4 linked regions of the Homo sapiens genome follow. The protein of the gene in region 3 purifies or fractionates together with the protein of the main gene of each other region. This does not show direct contact. Each region holds a gene or a part of one and is shown on either strand. Other genes may lie near its edges.

Region 1 (4,414 bases), on a different chromosome or scaffold from region 3:
GGCCAACATAGTGAAACCCCGTCTCTACTAAAAATACAAAAATTAGCTGGAGATGGTAGCACACGCCTGTAATCCCAGCTACTAGGGAGGCTGAGGCAGGAGAATTGCTCGACTTGGGGTGGAGGTTGCAGAGAGCCGAGATCACGCCACTGCATTCCAGCCTGGACGACAAAGCACGACTCTGTCTCAAAAATAAAAAATAAAATAAAATACAACTGAAAAACAGAAAAAAGAAAAAAATAATAACCTATTGTTACCTTGGAGAGTTAAAAAAATAAATATATATAAAAAAAGAGGCTGGGCGCAGTGGTTCATGCCTGTTATCCCAGCACTTTGGGAGGCTGAGGCGGGCAGATCACGAGGTCAGGAGTTCAAGACCAGACTGGCCAGCATGGTGAAACCCCTTCTCTAATAAAAATACAAAAAATTAGCTGGGCATGGTGGTACGCGCTTGTAATCCCAGCTACTCGGGAGGCTGAGGCAGGAGGACTGCTTGAACCCGGGAGGCGGAGGTTGTAGTGAGCCGAGATCGCATCACTGCACTCCAGCCTGGGCAACAGAGTGAGAATCCGTCTCAAAAAAACCAACCAAACAAACAAACAAAAAACAAAACCGAATACTATCACCACTTTCTCACTCTGAGGGGATTTACTCAAGAGAATCTAACATGCTCTGACTAGGACGAAGATTGGTATGCCTATGAACATCATCTGTCAAGGGTATTAGTATGTAAAAAGTTAAGGGTCACTGTTCTACTACTACTTTTTTTTTTTTTTTTTAAAGCCTTTCACCTCTTTAAAGCCTCTTCTCAGCAGAAAAACACCACGATAGGGTCAGGAAATCAGAGACACTGAATCAAATAAGGATCTGTCCTTGCAGAGAGAAGTGATTTCAGCCTCTTTTATCAATGAGGAAGGGGTGACTGGATAATAGGACACTATCTTCTCCAGTATAGGACAGGTACATGTAACTTCTCTTCTACTTTACCACTATTTAAGTTACTGCAATAAATATTCTGACTACCATAGAAATGTAGCAAAAAGATTACTCACCATCATTTAGGGCTTCAATAGCAGCCACTTTTTTATCATTTGCCTGATCCATCATCTCCTCCGTTATCTAGGAAGAAAATAAAAATCATCTTAGAATTAGTAGAGAGAGAGAGAAGGAAGCAATTCATACTTTCTTAGGGATGAGGCGCAGTCACAATACCCATTTTCATTCATTCTTCTGTAGTCTCCAGAGAACAAAGAGACAATTATGATAACTCATTAGTGAGAAATTACATACGAGTTTTAACCTTTTATACTAAACAAATTTCACTCCTACACTCTGCCCGAGACATAACCTTTGCTTAACCTTCCGTCCCAACCAAAGCATACCAGCTCCTACCTAGCTATCCATAAATATTAAACCCAATCTCCTCACAAAAAGATAACTAGCTCCTTTTAGGTTTAAATCCTCAGAAGAGAAAGGTCTCATTCCTTTGTTCCCACAAACAACTATTGAGCACCTATGCTATATAGATAGACCAAACACTGTACAAGATGCTGACAGTATAAAGATTAGTTAAGAACAAAAACATGTGCATCTGGGCAACAGAGGGCGATCCCATCTCTCCAAAAAAAAGAAAAAAAAAAAAAAAAACAAGCTGGGCATGGTGGCACATGCATCTGGTCCCAGCTACTCAGGAGGCTGAGTTAGGAGGCTCGCTTGAGCTCAGGAAGTCAAGGCTGTAGTGAGTCTTGATTGTGTCACTGTACTCTAGCCTGGGTGACACAGAGCAAGACCATGTCTCACCCTACCCCTGCAAAAAAAGAACAAAGAGTTATAGCAAACATCCTCCTAAAATGGAAAGCTCTGGAGATCTTTAACCACAGGAAAAAAATATACAACTCATGCCTATAATCTCAGCACTTTGGGAGGCTGAGGCAGGTAGATCCCTTGAGCCCAGGAGTTCAAGACCAACCTGGGCAATATGGCGAAACTTCGTCTCTACAAAAAATAAAAAGAAAAAATAAATATTAAATATAAAAATAATGTTTTATTTAAAGACAGGGTCTACCTCTGTCACCCAAGCTCCGGTGCAGTGGTGCAATCACGGTTCACTGCAACCTCCATCTCCTGGGCTCAGCCTCCCCTCAAGTGTAGCTGGAACTACATGCTCGCAACCTACTAAATGTTTTGCTTTTTTTTTTTTATAGAGACGGGTTTTCATCATGCTGCCCAGGCTGGTCTAGAACTCTTGGACTCAAGTGAGTTGCCTGCCTCACTCTCCCAAAGTTCTGGGATTAGAAGCATAAGCCGCCACTCCTGGCTGCAATTTTATTTTGAAGGTAATGCAGGACACAGGATACAAAGTCTATATTCAGAGGAAGAGAATGTATGTGGTCTAACCAGACACCTTCCAAAATAAATCTGCAACTCCAAATGCTAATACCGGCAAGCATAATGGTATAAACCTGTCCTACAGAAACGGACAGTTGAGTAGTGAGATTAAAAGAACTTCCCCTGAAAATTCAGAGCCACAGCCAGCCTTTCATCTGGAATTCTGTATTACCAAAGTAATTGGAACAAACAAAAAAACACCATGCTGAGACTTTCAAGGGGTCCTTGAGTTGGTAGCACCAATTCAGAGACTTCATGGAAGCAATCACCTTCTTACCTAGGCCTCAAAATTTTTCTACAGGTGAAGTTCCAAAGAACACATTTTCAAAATATCACACACAACACACAAACACATCATAAAGTAAACAAGGTACCTTAATGAGCAAGAGCCATGAAAAATAAGAGTAAGACCAGCGAAGAGTTCAACAAGGAATTTAATGTGTTTAATAAAAGTAAATTCTGAAAATGAGTAAAGAGCAAAAGACTTACAAATAACCAAGTAGACTTCAAAAAGATTTGAAGTACCAAAATGAAAAACACAAGCATTCCAATTCAAACATCAATGGAACAGACAAAGCATAGACTGCTTTTCAGCAGAGAGTGATAAAGAAATGAAACTTAATAACAAAAGTCTAACATTACCAGGGATCCAGAATTAGAGCATAAAGTAAACAAGAAGGAGGCAATATTTAATAACAGCTGAAAATATTCTAGAGCTAAAGAAAGTTAACCCTAGAATTTGATGCTCACTGAATCCCAAGCAGGATAAATAAAAAATTATAAACCTAGACACATCATAAAAGAAGTAATACCATCAATAAACATAACATTTAACCTTTAAAGTTTCCTTTGACAAATGGTGACAGAAAGTACTTACATTTGTTCTTAACAAAAATGCACAAGACTTACGTCAGGTGCAGTGACTCATACCTGTAATCCCAGCACTCTGGAAGGCCAGGAGTTTGAGATTTTGTCTCTACTAAGAATTTTTAAAAATAAAAATAAAAAACTAGCTGGACATGGTGGTGCATGACTATAGTCCCAGCTGGTCAGGAGGCTGAGGTGGGAGGATCACTTGAGCCCAGGGCGTCAAGGGCGCAGTGAGCTATGATTGTACCACTACACTCCAGCCTGGATGGAAGAGTGAGACACTGTCTCAAAAAAACAAAGCACAAGACTTATGGGGAACACGTTAGTAAGTTATTAAAATATTTTAAAAACACCTAAAAATTGGGCAGATAACATTATTTATGGATAGTTTATCTCAATGGTGAGGAGATATATCTTTTCCCGAACTTGATTTAGATTTAACACAATTCTAACAAAGGGGAAAAAAACCAATGGAAGCGGGGAGACTTGATCAACCTATTTCTAAAATTTACTTGGAAAAACAAAAAGCCAAGAACAGCCAAAAGACTAAAAAGTTTTGGGGGTCCTTGTTCTACAAAATAACAAGACTTAGTATCAGACGATGTGGCATTAGTGAACAGAAAAAAAATAGACAAGCAGAACAATAAACTCCTGAAACAGACCCACAATATTCAGAAACAGTGTATTTTAGTTTTGGTGGGACCGGTAGATTAAAGGTGAAAGGTGAGTGTATAAAATGTTCAGAAGAGAAAAAGCAATGCACTACAGCAATTATAACCTCAAAGTAATAAAGCAGAAAATATCTGCATTAAAAGATACTATTTTTGAAACAACATGAAGAAAGATGAGTGAAGATGAGTCACAAACTAGCAGAAAATATATGCAGCACTAGCAACAAATTATTAGCATCCAGAATATTGAAATGAAATACAAAGCAGTAAGAAAAAGATCCAGCAAAAAGTGGAAAAAGTTTAAACAGGAGTTCGCAAATGCCAGTGAACAGCCAATAAACATTTAAATATGCTCAGCCTCATTAGGAATCAGGAAAATGCATTTTTTTTTTTTTTTTTAAATAGAGTTTTGCTCTGTCGCTCAGGCTGGAGTGCAGGGGTGCGATCTCACCTCACTGCAACCTCTGCCTCCTGGGTTCAAGTGA
Region 2 (5,062 bases), on a different chromosome or scaffold from region 3:
ACAGGTGTGAGCCCAGTGGAGGAGGCACGGGGCAGGGACCAGCCACTGTTGCTGGCACACTGGTGCACGCAGCACCGTGGCAGATGGACCTGAGAGAAAGCAGGAGGGACAGCACAGTGGAGCCAAGAAAGGGCTTAGCATGGCCGGGCACGGTGACTCACACCTGTAATCCCAGCACTTTGGGAGGCCGAGGCGGGCAGATCACCTGAAGTCAGGAGCCTCGAGACCAGCCTGACCAACATGGAGAAACCCCGTCTCTACTAAAAATACAAAATTAGCCGGGCGTGGTGCTGCATCCCTGTAATCCCAGCTACTCAGGAGGCTGAGGCAGGAGAATTGCTTGAACCCAGGAGGCAGAGGTTGCAGTGAGCCGAGATTGCGCCATTGCACTCCAGCCTGGGCAACAAGAGCAAAACCCTTGTCTCAAAAAAAAAAAAAAAAAAAAAAAAAAAAAGCTTAGCAGAGGAGTAACAGCATCAGATCTGGCTTTAGAGCTTCCTACAGTCAACCTCAAGGAAAATGCAGTGAGACAGTCTGGAAGCAGAGAAACCAGTCTGGGAAGTTCTTGTGGTCATCCCAATAAGAAATGAGTGCTTAACCTAGGCAGTGTCCGAGGGGCTGAAGAGAAAGGAGTGGAGGCCAGATGTGGTGGCTCACGCCTGTAATCCGAGCACTTTGGGAGACCAAGGCGGGCAGATCACCTGAGTTCAGGAGTTTCAGACCAGCATGGCCAACATGGTGAAACCTCATCTCTACTGCAAATACAAAAATTAGCTGGACATTGGTGGTGGGAGCCTCTAATTCCAGCTACTCAGGAGGCTGAGGCAGGAGCATCGCTTGAACCCGGGAGGCAGTGAGCCAAGATCATGCCACTGCACTCCAGCTTGGATGACAGAGTGAGACTCAGTCTAAAAAAAAAAGAGAGAAAGGAGTGGAGCTGAGAAAGATGCTCAAGGTAGGGGAGTAAATGATTGGAGGGAGGAGAAGGAAGCACCTAGGATGACTCAGTTTCTGGCTTGACCAAATGGGTGGAAGATGGTGACATCTGTTAGATTTAACTGGGGATGTACTAGGTGTAAAGTCTGAGAGGAAAGATGACAAATGCAGCGACTGTTAGCATCTGTGGTGCGTTCATATGAACCTGAGGAGGTAAGAATGCAAGAGGGAAGTCTACACTGGGTGGTGAGAATCACCAGGTGGGAGGCAGGAGTTAAAGCTAGAGAAAAAACGGAGAGATCAAGAAGAATGTAGGATGAGGCTCCTAGGAGTTCGATGTTTAAGGGATGGCAGGAAGACAAACCTTGGAGATGGATAAACTGCTGGAAAGGTAGGAAGAAAGCCCAGAGAGCAAAGTCACAACTATCCAGCCACTTCTCTTCCCAATACCCCAGACACCTCCCTAGATGAGGACAGCCAGGGCTCTAAGCTCTCACCTGGAAGCCCGACCCTGATAGGAGAAACCTTGTCTCTTGAAATAATCAACTACATCATCGGAGCAGGTCTTGAGAGTGTTCACACGCACAAATCGAGGCAGCTGGGAGGCTACGTAGGACGCAATGAGCAGTGAGTAGGCAGGAGCAAAGTTCCCCGCCTCCCCCACCCCCCAACTCCTTCCAGCTTACCTGGACCAGGCCTGGATCCCACTTCCAACAGGTCCTCATTCCGGCTCACACCCCGATGAACCTTGAGCCGAGCCAACTCAGCCTTGAGCCTCGCCTGGTGCCGGCCCAACAGAGCCTTCCATCGGCCCCCACCCCCTCGAAAGCCCTTTCCCAACAACAACTCATACACTAGCACCTGGGAATGAGGGAACAAAGACAAAAACAAAAATGCCCTAAGCATGAAGCATGAATGCCTTAGAACTAACTCTAATGGAGCCCCGGCAATGGAATGGCTAAACAGATCACCTGACAAGATACAGGTGGGATACCTTATCCAAGATCACACCAGAAATTAACTACAGAACAGGATCGGAACCTGGCGTCTCGCTTCCCAGCCTTAGACCCTTTCTCCACCGATGTTCACCAGTAGACACCTCTGCACCCAACTTCTTGCCAACATTACCCTTTCGTGGGTTTGGGTTTTCTTTTTAGAATGGGGTCTAGCTCTGTCGCCCAGGCTGAAGTGCAGTGGCCAGATCATAGCTCACTGCAGCTTCGACCTCCTGGGCTCAAGTGATCCTCCTCCCTCAGCCTCCCGAGTAGCTGGGACCACAGGTGCGCGCCGCCACGCCCGACTTCCTTACAGTCTCCGCCACTACCACTTTGTACTTCGGTTATTTAATCCTTCAAAACACTCAAAGTTAAAGCATTTTCATCCCATCTTAATTCGTAACCCAGGGAAGGTCGGCTCATACTCATTTCAGATGAGCGACTTGCTCCAGTCCCGCCGTGCACGGCAGCAGAGCTGAGACCAGATGACAAAGCGCTGACCGTCGGGGTTCACTTCCCCGTCCCTCCCCTCCCCTCACCTTGGCCAGGTGCGGCCGCAGCTTCTTCTCCGCACGGAGGAGGCCGGCGCTGGCGATCACAGCATCCAGCACGGCGGAGTAGCGCTGCGTTTCGCACACCAGCGCGTACAGCTGCTTCACGTTCTGTGTGGCCGAGGAAGACAAGCTGGGTGGGGGCTCCCCCGGCCCTCCTCGCCGGGCCCCACCTCCCGACCCCACCCGGGCCCGTCCGACCCCACCCCGGGTTCCTCACTCCCCACCCCTACTACTCGCGCCCAGGTCCGCTACCTGGAAGTTGCTGGAGTACACCAACCCCTTGATAGAGCCCTGGCGGCTCTCCACGCCGGCCAACACGCCTGCAGCTGCAGCATACAGCCCCATGTTCCCGCGCGCCTTTACGGCTCTGTGGCAAAACGCACCCGGCTCGGCGCCCGCCCGGACTTCCGGGGTCAAAAAGCACGACCTTCCGGGACCGGAAGTGCCGGTCGAAGTCGCCCTGCAAGGCGTGTGTGTGATCGCGCACCTGCCGGGGTAGGGAGTGCGACGCTGCAGCCCGTTTCGCCACTTCTTCTCTAGTTCTTAAGTTTTTGCCAATCTGATGGGCAAATAATGGGATTTTACTGCTGTTTAACTGAAGTTACTGAGGTTAAATATCTTCACATGTGTATTAGTCATTATATATATATATATATATATATAATTTTTTTTTGACACAGAGTCTCACTCTGTCGCGCAGTGTCGCAATCGCGGCACACTGCAACCTCCGCCTCCCGGGTTCAAGCAATTCTCCTGCCTCAGCCTCCCGAGTAGCTGGGACTACAGGCCCACGCCACCACACCTGGCTAATTTTTGTATTTTTAGTAGAGATGGGGTTTCACTATGTTTGCCAGGTTGGCCTTGAACTCCTGACCTTAGGTGATCTGCCCACCCTGGCCTCCCAAAGTTCTGGGATTACAGGCATGAGCCCCCGCGCTGGCCATAATTTTGTGTCTCCGTTTATTGTCTTATCTTCCTCTGCCATGTGTCATCCAATGGCTGTGTTCTCAGGGAGGCTTCTGTGTAATGGCAAAAAAGGTCCTAGCAACTCTAGGTCCACAATGTGGTTTACAATACCTGCCATTCACCCTGCACCAGTAACCACATTAGTCCCAGAGCCAAGCAAGAAAGCACGTGGGGTATTTGGGTACCTGAAATGGGCCGGTTTGGCCAAATTAAGTGATGTAGGTATGATCCAGGCCTCAAAGCCACAATAACGGTTTTGTTTTTGTTTTTGATGAGGTCCCACTCCGTCACCCAGGCTGGAGTGCAGTGGCACCGTCATAGCTCACTGCAGCCTCAAACTCCAGGGCTCAAGCGATCCTCCCACTTCACTCTCCAAGTAGCTGGGACTACAGGCATGCACCACCACTCCTAGCTAATTTTATCTTTTGTAGAGATGTGGTCTCACCATGTTGCCCATGGATGGTCTCGAACTCCTGGCCTAAAGTGATCTTCCCACCTCGGCTTCCCAAAGCAGTGATTACAGGCATGAACCACTGTGCCCAGCGAGGATTTTATTCTTTTATCTTGAAAGAAATGGTAGTCCTCTTAAGGTTTTTAAGTCATGGAGTGCTGTGCTAACATATACTTCTTTAAAAGATCAGTCTGGCCAGGTGTGGTGGCTCACACCTGTAATCCTAGCACTTTGGGAGGCCAATGCAGGCAGATCACTTGAGGTCAGGAGTTCAAGACCAGCCTGGCCAACATGACAAAACCCCGTCTCTACTAAAAATACAAAGATTAGCCAGGCATGGTGGTAGACACCTGTAATCTCAGCTACTTGGGAGGCTGAAGCAGGAGAACCATTTGAACCTGGGAGGCTGGGGTTGCAGTAAGCTGAGATTGTGCCACTGCACTCCAGCCAGGGGGATAGAGCAAGATTCTTTCCCCAAAAAATAAATAATCAGTCTGGTTACAGTGTGGGGATATAGGATGGAGGGGGCAGAGTTGAGGCAGGGAGAGACCAATGGGGGTCATGGGAGTCACCTAAACAAGAACTGGTGGCCTGGACTGAGTTGGTGGCAGTGGAGTTAGGTTGAAATTGGCAGTGTGACCGCTAAGTTAAATCCACAGAACTTGCTCAGGAAAAAGGACAGGTCGAGAATAACTCGTAGGTTTTCAGTTTGGGCAGTTCACACAATGCTGCTGTGTCTTTTGGTAGGATGGGGAAACGTGGGGTGATGGAGTGAACAACGGCCACCCAGAGAGAGCAGGTCCTAATTCCTAGAGCCTGGAAATGTCACCTTCTATGGAAGAGATCTGTAGGAATGATCAGGGGAAGGATTTGGAGAGAAGGTTATCCTCGATTATCTGGGCAGGTCCTGCATGGCATCACCAGTATCCCTATAAGAGAGAGGCAGAGGAAGGACAAGCGCAGTGACTCACACCTGTAATCCCAGCACTTTGGGAGGCCGAGGCTGGCAGATCCCTTGAGCCCAGGAGTTCGCAACCAGCCTGGCCAACATGGTGAAACCCCATCTCTACTAAAAATACAAAAATTTGCCAGGTGTGGTGGTGCATGCCTGTAATCCCTGCTACTCAGGAGGCTGAGGCAAAAGAATTGCTTGAACCTGG
Region 3 (4,961 bases):
CTATGACTGATAGGGAATAAACAGAATATATATTCTCTCTGTATTTCATCAGTTTAGGAAAAGAAAGTAAATTAACTAACATAACATCTAAATGAGAAGTCTCTCATGTATTTGCAGCATTCAACTGTGTTATGCCAAGTAGTAGAAATCATCATCATTTAATTCAGATGCAAGAGAAAGTGGACATCCTTCTTACTTTAAAGTTGGTTGGTTCGGTGTCTTTCTGTTTAAGAATCTCTGACATAAAATCAATCAAGTGCAAACCAAAAGCATTCTTGGTAGTGATTTTCTGAAAACAGAAAATTGCAGAAAGGATTGTTATTTATAGCCTAGGCTCATGTAAATAATGCTGCTTTTAACAGAGGAAGCTAAGTCTTTACATAGGAATACCCACATATTGTCACTGATCTCTCTTCCCAAAAACACTTGTCAAGAGCCAAATCCTCACAGGCATGTCCTCATGTTCAAGGCTAGGGAATGACGGCACAAAATTCCTGAATGCTCAGTGTGTGCAGGCCCTGCTCTAAGCACTGCACACAAAGGGACTCACCCTCCAAACAACTTCATGAGGCAGGCACTACCCCCATTCTCCAGAGGACACGGAAGCAAAATGGTTGGGTGGCTCACACACAGCTTAGAAGCATGTAGCCTCCAACTCAGGCTAGCTCCAGAACTCTACTATTAACTCATGCGCCATGCTGCCTTTCTAGATACACAGCAGATAGCTGGCAGCCTCTCAGGAGGTGCACCACGGGTCCAGAGTAAACAGTAAAACCACCAGCACTAAGATGACTCACCAGAGAATTATCATCATTGATTGTGCATTATCTACAGAAACAAGATAGCTGGATTTCCCCTGTGATCAAGGGATTACGTCTTCAATAATAAACCAGCAAATACTCACATTTTCAGTGGACAGTTTGATACAGGTGGAGTAATGTTCCGTAATCTGCGTGTTTGTAAACTTGGGGATAGTAGCTGAAATGTCAATACTCCTAAATGGAAAACAAAAACAAACAACTCTGGCAAGAATCCATGATAGTTTAAATTTTCAAAACCTAGACCCATGAAGTTTTGTGGAGATGCCTGGACCTACGCAGCCCATATCAAGGCGGCTGCCTCAAGGAGAAACAGCCCAGGAGCACCTCACCTGCTGGAGGGGGAGGCCAATAAGCGAGGTGAGTCAGTGCTGAACTGCAGATCAAAGACCCTCGAGCGCCTCCGCTGCAGCCGCTCCTTCTCATCGTCATTCTGAGGAAAGTCTTCGAGGACTGGGGTGCCAGGAATATTGAGAGGCGCCTTCCTGGGCAGGGGCATCGGGAACACACGCTCTGAAGGAGAGGAGGCACTGTGGGGGTGTCCTCGCGTCTCTGAAGAAGAGTTATTCATTGTGGCTGGCAGTGCTGGAACAAAATTCTTGCTCAAGAAACCTTCAAGAGAACATTTCCTATATCCAAAGAAGTCTTGAGCCTGTCACAGGGGTGGAGGTTCACCACACACTGTCCACTGAGATCTTCTCCAACTCTAATACTTAATGGCTAGAACCTCTAGAGTTTGGGTTTCTTGGAGGTGCAGGGGGGAGGCCATAGGTTTCTGATGCTTCTTTGTTAATCTGGGACAAATATCCACTCTGCAGCTATGTGAATTTAAGTACTGCATGGATATAAAAATGGATGATATAATATTGCTGCCTCTGATAAGCTCACAAACTGGACAACAGACATATATAACCCATCATGCCAGGTAAGACAAGGAAGAGACAGATGCTGAGACAAGGGTGAGGTATGGGCTATAGAGTTAGACAGGCTGGGCTCTAATTCCAGCTCCTCCATATCTTGGCAAACAGACAGAGGAAAAACAACATAAACATGTAAAACAAATAGAATGTTCCAAAGAATCATCCAGATTATTTGCTAACTACAAAAGGAAAAATGTCTTTTACAATAAAAACTCTACCAGTCACCACATTAACCAGTCAAATGTAGCCTCACTAAAAATCAATCTGAAAGTTACTCATCTCTTCATGTGACACAATGTGAAATTCATAGCATCACCCAGGAAATATTTCCACCAAACATGTTTAACCTAAATTTAACCAAAGAACTTTAGATCTTTAACTTCTGGTTTATAAGAAATACAAGGGGTCAAGGAACAAGTTAAATGATATCACAAGGAAACACTCTAGAATGCAGGACAGTTTTCAAGAAAACTAGCTTAGTCTCTTAACTTAAAAGATAACAACCAAAAAAAAAAAAAAAAAAGGCCGGACATGGTAGCTCATCCCTGTAATCCTACCCTTTGGGTGGCTGAGGTGGGAGGATCCCTTGAGGCCAGGAGTTAAGAAACAGCCTGGGCTACCGGGCACGGTGGCTCATGCCTGTAATCCCAACACTTTGGGAGGCCGAGGTGGGTGGATCACCTGAGGTCAGGAGTTAGAGACCAGCTGGCCAATATGGTGAAACCCCGTCTCCACTAAAAATACAAAAGTTAGCTGGACGTGGGGGCGGGCGCCTGTAATCCCAGCTACTCAGGAGGCTGAGGCAAGATAATCGCTTGAACCCGGGAGACAGAGGTTGCACTGAGCCAAGACTGTGCCATTGCACTCCAACCCAGGCAACAAGAGTGAAACTCCGTCTCAAAAAAAAAAAAAAAAAAAAAAAAGATGCTTATTAGTATTAGTCATCCTACTGGGTTAGATAGGTGGGTATCTAATCCCAGAATTTAGGGAAAGTTCCAGATGAGATACACACACTGGGAAGTCATCAGCATGTAGAGGGTATTCAGAGCCATAATACTGGATGAGATCACCAAATAACTGAGTAGAGGAACACTTTAAAGGTTTAAAGAGCAGGAAAGCACTTTGGGAGGCTGAGGCAGGCAGATCACATGAGGTCAGGAGTTCGAGACCAGCCCGGTCAACATGGTGAAACCCTGTCTCTACTAAAAATACAAAAATTAGCTGAACGTGGTGGTGGGCGCCTGTAATCTCAGCTACTTGGGAGGCTGAGGCAGGAAAATCGCTTGAACCCGGGAGACGGAGGCTGTAGTGAGCCGAGATGGCGCCACTACACTCTAGCCGGGGCAACAGAGTGAGACTCTGTCACAAAAAATAAATAAATAAGTAAAAATAAAGAAGGAGAAACCAGCAAAAGAGCTGGGAAATGTGCAACTAGTGAGGTGGGAGAAAATCAGGAGAATGTGGCATTCTAAAAGCCAGGTGAAGAAAGTATTTTTAGGGGAGGAGGATGTGATAAACTATGTAGATGAGGACTGAGAACTGATCATTGGATTTAGAACCTAGGGTTACTAGTGATCTTGACAAAAACAGTTTTCCTAGAGTAGTAAGGGAGAAAGCTGAACTGGAGTGGTTCAAGTGAAGATGGGAGAAGAGAAACTGGAGACAGCAAACGATGACAAGGTGTTCAAGGACTTCTCTTTTTTTTTTTTTTTTTTTGAGACAGAGTCTTGCTTTGTCCCCCAGGCTGGAGTGCAGTGACGGGATCTCAGCTCATTGCAACTCCGCCTCCCAGGTTCAAGCAATTCTCCTGCCTCAGCCTCCTGAGTAGCTGGGACTACAGGCGCCCGCCACCACGCCCAGCTACTTTTTTGTATTTTTAGTAGAGACGGGGTTTCACAGTGTTAGCCAGGCTGGTCTCGAACTCCTGACCTCGTGATCTGCCTGTCTTGGATTCCCAGAGTGCTGGAATTACAGGCGTGAGCCACCACGCCCTGCCCAAAGACTTCTACTGTAAAAGGGTGGAGAGAAATGAGAGGGTGAGAGTTGAAAGGGAAGTGAGGAATTTTTAAGACAAAAAAACAAAACAAACAAACAAAAACCTCAGCATGGTAGAAAGAATGAAGCAAAGAGACTGTATTAGTTTTCTATGGCTGCTGTCACAAATGACCACAAACCTAGCGGTTTAAACACACATGTGGCTGGGCGCGGTGGTTCACACCTGTAATCCCAGCACTTTGGGAGGCCGAGGCGAGCAGATCATGAGGTCAGGAGATCCAGACCATCCTGGCCAACACGGTGAAACCCCACCTCTACTAAAAATACAAAAAAATGAGCCGGGCGCAGTGGCGGGTGCCTGTAGTCCCAGCTACTTGGGAGGCTGAGACAGAAGAATGGCATGAACCCAAGAGGTGGAGCTTGCTGTGAGTCGAGATCGCGCCACTGCACTACAGCCTGGGTGACAAAGTGAGACTCCGTCTCAAAAAACAAAAACAAAAACAAAAAAACCCCCACACGTTTATGTGTTCTCTTGCAGCTGTGGAGGGTTACATTCATTCTGGAGGCTTTGAGAGGAGGATCTGTTCCTCGCCTTTTGCAGCTTCAGAGCTGCCTACATTCCTTGGCTCACTGTCCCCCCATCACTCTAACCTCTTGTTCTGTCATCACATCTGCTCTCACTCTACCCCGACGACCTTCCTCTTACAAGGACCACTGTGATTAAACTGGGCCCACCCAGATGATCCATGATAGTCTTCTCAACAGCCTTAACTTAATCACATGAGCAAAGTCTCTTTCACCACGTAAGATAACATATTCACAGGTTCTGGACACCTTTAGGGCAAGTGTTATTCAGCCTATCACAGTGACCATCCAAAATAAAAGGTAAAATTTGCTGAACAATGTACTCAAGCAGGCAAAGAGGTTGCCTTTGTAGAGAGCACAGAAAGCCCATCCTCAGTAACAGGAGAAAAGACAGAGGCACTGGCACAGATGCAGGCAGGGAGCAGGTGCAATGGCAGACTTGGGGATGTTCCTTTTTGTTTGCTTTTTTTTTTTTTTTTTTTTTTCAATAAAATAGGAAGTAAAAACAAGGCTGGGCTCATGCCTGTAATCCTAGCACTTTGGAGGCCAAGGTGGGAGGATCACTTGAGGTCAGGAGTTCGAGACCAGCCTGGCCAACAAGGCAAAATCCCGTCTCTACTAAAAATACAAAAATTAGCAAGGT
Region 4 (4,414 bases), about 140 Mb from region 3:
TCTCCGGACAATCAACATTTTCACTGCTTTCTGCTGCAATTTTCTGTTTTGGATTTTCAGTCACCTCGTTTTGGGCTTCCACTGCTGACTTTCTGTCAGTAGACTTTACCTGCTCTTCTTCCTTAATTTCACTTAAATCTGTGTTCTGATACGTTAACTCTTTTTTAACATCTTTAAGGGTTTCTACGGGTACTGGGGATTTTTTCTTCTTGTTTTTCTTTTTCTTGTTCTTTGTCTTCTTCTGCGATGAGTCCAATGCCTCTCCCTGTTGGTCACTCTTTTCTTCATCGGGCTCTTTCATATCTAAGGGTTCATTTTGAGTGTCTACTGTACTTGGACCTGTCGCTTCCTGACAGTTGCCCTCAGTTCCTGCTGGAGAACCAGGAACTTCTGTCTTGATTGGTTTCTCGTCCCTTAATCCTGTTTCTTCACCCTCTTCTTCGTTGTGATCCCTACCTACTTCTGTACTGTGCGCTGGAACCTCCTTGGGCTCAGCTGCTTCCTGGTTGGTGAATTCTTTCTCTAAACTATGCCCTGTGCTTGTCTCTAACTCTTGGGGGACCTCTACCATACATTTGTCATCATGATAAACTGTGTCATCACTATGCCCTAAAGGACACGAGGCCACTGTGCCTGCCTGCTCTTCAACCTGAGTCACTGCTGCCTCTCCCACATTCTCTGTGTGGTTCCCACCATCTAAGTCACTCCAACAGTTGGATGGCTCAAGGGGAGTTCTGGTCCTGTCATCTGGTGCACCCATGACCTCATTTGACTCAACCTGTACTGTGTTTTCAGGGAGAGAACTGCTCTCAAGAATTTGGCTTTGAACCTGTTCCTCATAGGTAGCACCTGCTAAGGTTCCTAGGAATGGGGCAGTGTCTTCAGAGGATTTCTGGTCCTCGGTATTCTCACCAGCAGGGAATACCTCTATGTCCACACAGTCCTTCACTGTGTCCTCTGTGTGTTGTTCTTTCTCAGTATTGTGCAAGATTTCTCTTTTCCCCACATTCGCCACGATTTCATTTTTCACCTCCACTTCACTGGCTCTTCCTAAAAGACCATTGAGAAAATTGAAGGGACCCCATGATGTGGCGGCCACATAATCTACATTAGAATGTAAACACACGTTCCAAATCCCACCCACCCCTATTCCTAAAGACAGAGTCATCAAAGAGTCATGAGAAACAAGCCTTTGCCAGTTCTGTGCGGCAAAGCAGCAGTTGCATTAGTAAATTTTGGGTCAGTGAGGGCCACTGCCACCACATCAAAGGCCAGAGTGGCTGCTGGTGCCATCTTGTGTGGACAGATTTTTAAAGGTGACGTTAAGTTTCAACAAATAGAAAGAACTCTGGATCAGGCAGCCAAACAATCCACAATGATGGGTTTAGGAACAGACTGAAGGTTCAATTCCCCACTCTCACTTCTCAATGAACAACTTGACAACTTGTACTTTTGCAGCTGTCAAACTGCACTCCATGTCACACAGCCCTAAAAGCAGCTTTCAAGTAATTTTTAAAAAGAATATTCAGTGCACTTTTAGAAATGCAGCCTCAAGGTCAGTCTCAAGGAAGATGCTTTTGAAATAGCTCATATGAAAGGAAATCTATCTTCTGCCACTCAACTATTGTTTTCCTGAGAAAACACCCTGTGTCCATGCCCTGATACCTCTGCTCCATTCCCTAAGGGACTAGGGAGAGAGGACCAGCAGGAGGCAAATGTTCAAGATCAAGATGACCACTAAATTAAATGATAAATTATTCATCGTCTAAAGAACATCAAACTGTTTTGGAATTTTTGGACTCTCCAAACAAAACCCCAGCAGATTAGATATGGTACTATGTTACTGAAAGTCAAAGCTAGATAATTTTATAGCCCAGTGATCTCCATGGTGGGGTGCCCATATCCCAGGGAAAATGGGGGAAATATTAGGAATTCTATTTAGAGTTTTACTCTAAAACTTCTTTGCATATCTTTGCATATATTTTATAACGTACATTTTATATTAATGAAATAGTATACATATGTAGATTTAAAATAAACATACATATTGGATCCTACAATTCTTTGCTGAAGGAATATGTGATCAAAAGTCATTTGAAGGCCACTTTCAAAACTGACATTTCTGGTTCTTACAACATTTCACAATGGTTATCAAAGATTTATAAAATGTGTATTTGAGTAAGAGCAGCGTAATCAGATTCCTAGCTGTTCGGGTAGCTCATATAAAGGTATGATGGAAATTGATTAATTTATCTTTTCTCAACAACGGTATATAGATACTACATACCTATCTAGAGACGGAATCTTGCTAGGTTGCCAGGCTGGCCTGGAATTCCTGGTCTTAAGTGATCCTCCAGCCTTGGCCACCCGCAGCGCTGGGATTAGAAGTGTGAGCCACTGCACTAGGCCACAACTTTTTTTACACAATTGAAAAGAGCTGTGTTTCTTTAATAGTCATAAAGATAATGAATGAGGTACCTCCCTGGAATGCGAGGCCTGAGAAGATGGGGCCTGGAGGTGTCTACATTTCCATAAATAAAAAGAAATAAGATGAAAGCTTCTACATTAAAATGAAAAGTCACGGACCCTGACCTTATTCCAGCCTCTTTGTAAAACACTGGAACGCAGAGGGTGACCAGTGACAGATGAGGCCTCACTTGCACGCTGCAACTTCAGGCTGCACGCCAGAATCTGAAGGTTTCTCCCAAAGCCAACTCTTATGACAAATTATGACAAATCAGATCATTGAAAATGGTATAAAATATTCCTCTGATCTACTGGATTCCCCAGTTTTATATTCTTTCAGAAGCAAACACGTGGCATACAAAGGAGGATCCCCTCTGACAAAGGTGGGCATACTCAGACTCTCAGCACCGCCACACCCACTACCACGGCCGCCTGCCCACCTCGAGCGGTGGCTTGAAAAAGGCAACACAGACGGACCTGCTGTCCACAGGCACCCCGTACCCTCAAAGCGCTGAATGCTGCCCAGGATGTCGATGTTGGCTTGCAAATATGGCCAACTGACTTGACGGCCTCAACCATTCTGATCTTTTGATAATTCTGTCATAGAATCGGTTTAAAAAGCCACACTTTATAGGTACAGATATATATGTGTCTGAGGAAAACCAAATAGTACTCTCCACATTGTTACTTAATTTTGAGACTGTTTTCCTTTTGCCTTCACAGTCTTGCTTGGTAGCTTTGAGCAGCAAAAGAAAAGGTTCACTTGAGCCATTGATGGTGCACTACACAGAGATGCATGCCAGACAACACGTGGGTGACCACACCGGGTGGGCAAGGAAATTACCATGAAGTGATGAAACAAATGGCATGCTGGTGACTGTTAACCCATCAGCGACGGTGGCTCCAACCCCAGCAGTGCATGGAGGGTGAACCAATGCTGAGTGGAAAGGTGTGAGGAGCCGAAGGAAAGCAAATACTTACCTAGGGTCCCATCCCCTGTCGACTTGAGGGCATTTAACTCTTCTTTTGTCATCTTGGTAGGACCTTGGTATCCAACATTATTGAGGGTGTCGGAAGTCTCTCCATTGGTAGCTATTTCTGAATTTAGGATTATTCCATGTTTCTGGGAACAAAAATAGGCTCATCGTAATATTTACTCAGTGATATTAGGTTAAACTCTGTTTTAATACAATAATAAAAAAGAAAACCATTTTTTCCTGAAGTACAGGGTAACTCCACAGAGACAAGAGAAATGCTAGGGTGCAGCACTCGTAAATATTCGGTCAACACACACAAATCTGGGATATCGTCCTCCAAAGGCTACTTCTTTCTCAGATGTTCCAATCCATGCTTTCATTTGCTGGTGACAAGCTACTTCCACCAGGCATCCTTTTTAACTACAGGTAGTGGCCTGTGGGCTGCCCCCAAGTGGAGCAGTAAGCAAGTCACTGCCAAGTGACCTTTCATTTCAAAACCCTGATTGCATTCTTTAAAAAGAGAAACCAGATAAAGAAAGAAATATATACATGTTCTGAAAGAGACACACGAAACTTATGTTAAAGAAGGAATTCAGAGGTGGCTAGAATGTTCAGTATATTCAAAAGAAACAGAATTCACTGAAAACAGCAGCACTTCCCAACTGCAGACATCACTCACCCATGCCCTCCTGCCGCCTGTGGCTCTCTCTCCCTTGTGTGTGAGGAACTCCCCTGAACTGATCGCCTCTTCAAGGAGCAGAATTACGAATCTTAGCTCTAAGCCTGTAGCTGGCTGGCTCACTGCTCTGGCTTTGACCCTGGAGGCCAAGCAGCAGATGGTGACGGTTCAGGAACCCCCCCACCCAGAGTGCTGCCACTGGCGCTTCACCTGTGTCAAGCAGCGGCTGAAGACGCCTTGGCGTGGCCCACCAAGGACAGGGAACCGTCTTCCACCTGTAATCTAGTAGGTC

What was found. Proteins that work in one complex are often made in the same cells at the same time.
Region 1: the proteins of NCAPH (region 3) and ST13 purify together in Homo sapiens (affinity purification with mass spectrometry; one large-scale study listed by BioGRID and IntAct). This does not show direct contact.
Region 2: the proteins of NCAPH (region 3) and NSUN5 purify together in Homo sapiens (affinity purification with mass spectrometry; one large-scale study listed by BioGRID and IntAct). This does not show direct contact.
Region 4: the proteins of NCAPH (region 3) and LRRFIP1 fractionate together in Homo sapiens (co-fractionation; one large-scale study listed by BioGRID). This does not show direct contact.

What each region holds. Positions count from the first base shown.
Region 1 is NC_000022.11:40,839,574-40,843,987, forward strand, and holds part of ST13 (hsc70-interacting protein), read right to left. Parts: intron 1,120-4,414; coding exon 1,053-1,119; intron 1-1,052. UniProt on the Homo sapiens protein: One HIP oligomer binds the ATPase domains of at least two HSC70 molecules dependent on activation of the HSC70 ATPase by HSP40. Stabilizes the ADP state of HSC70 that has a high affinity for substrate protein.
Region 2 is NC_000007.14:73,305,961-73,311,022, forward strand, and holds the start of NSUN5 (28S rRNA (cytosine-C(5))-methyltransferase), read right to left. Parts: upstream 2,867-5,062; 5' UTR 2,831-2,866; coding exon 2,738-2,830; intron 2,594-2,737; coding exon 2,471-2,593; intron 1,798-2,470; coding exon 1,623-1,797; intron 1,543-1,622; coding exon 1,434-1,542; intron 1-1,433. UniProt on the Homo sapiens protein: S-adenosyl-L-methionine-dependent methyltransferase that specifically methylates the C(5) position of cytosine 3782 (m5C3782) in 28S rRNA. m5C3782 promotes protein translation without affecting ribosome biogenesis and fidelity.
Region 3 is NC_000002.12:96,338,084-96,343,044, reverse strand, and holds part of NCAPH (condensin complex subunit 2), read right to left. Parts: intron 1,404-4,961; coding exon 1,151-1,403; intron 996-1,150; coding exon 905-995; intron 290-904; coding exon 197-289; intron 1-196. UniProt on the Homo sapiens protein: Regulatory subunit of the condensin complex, a complex required for conversion of interphase chromatin into mitotic-like condense chromosomes.
Region 4 is NC_000002.12:237,759,239-237,763,652, reverse strand, and holds part of LRRFIP1 (leucine-rich repeat flightless-interacting protein 1), read right to left. Parts: intron 3,590-4,414; coding exon 3,448-3,589; intron 1,051-3,447; coding exon of another isoform or gene 1-1,050.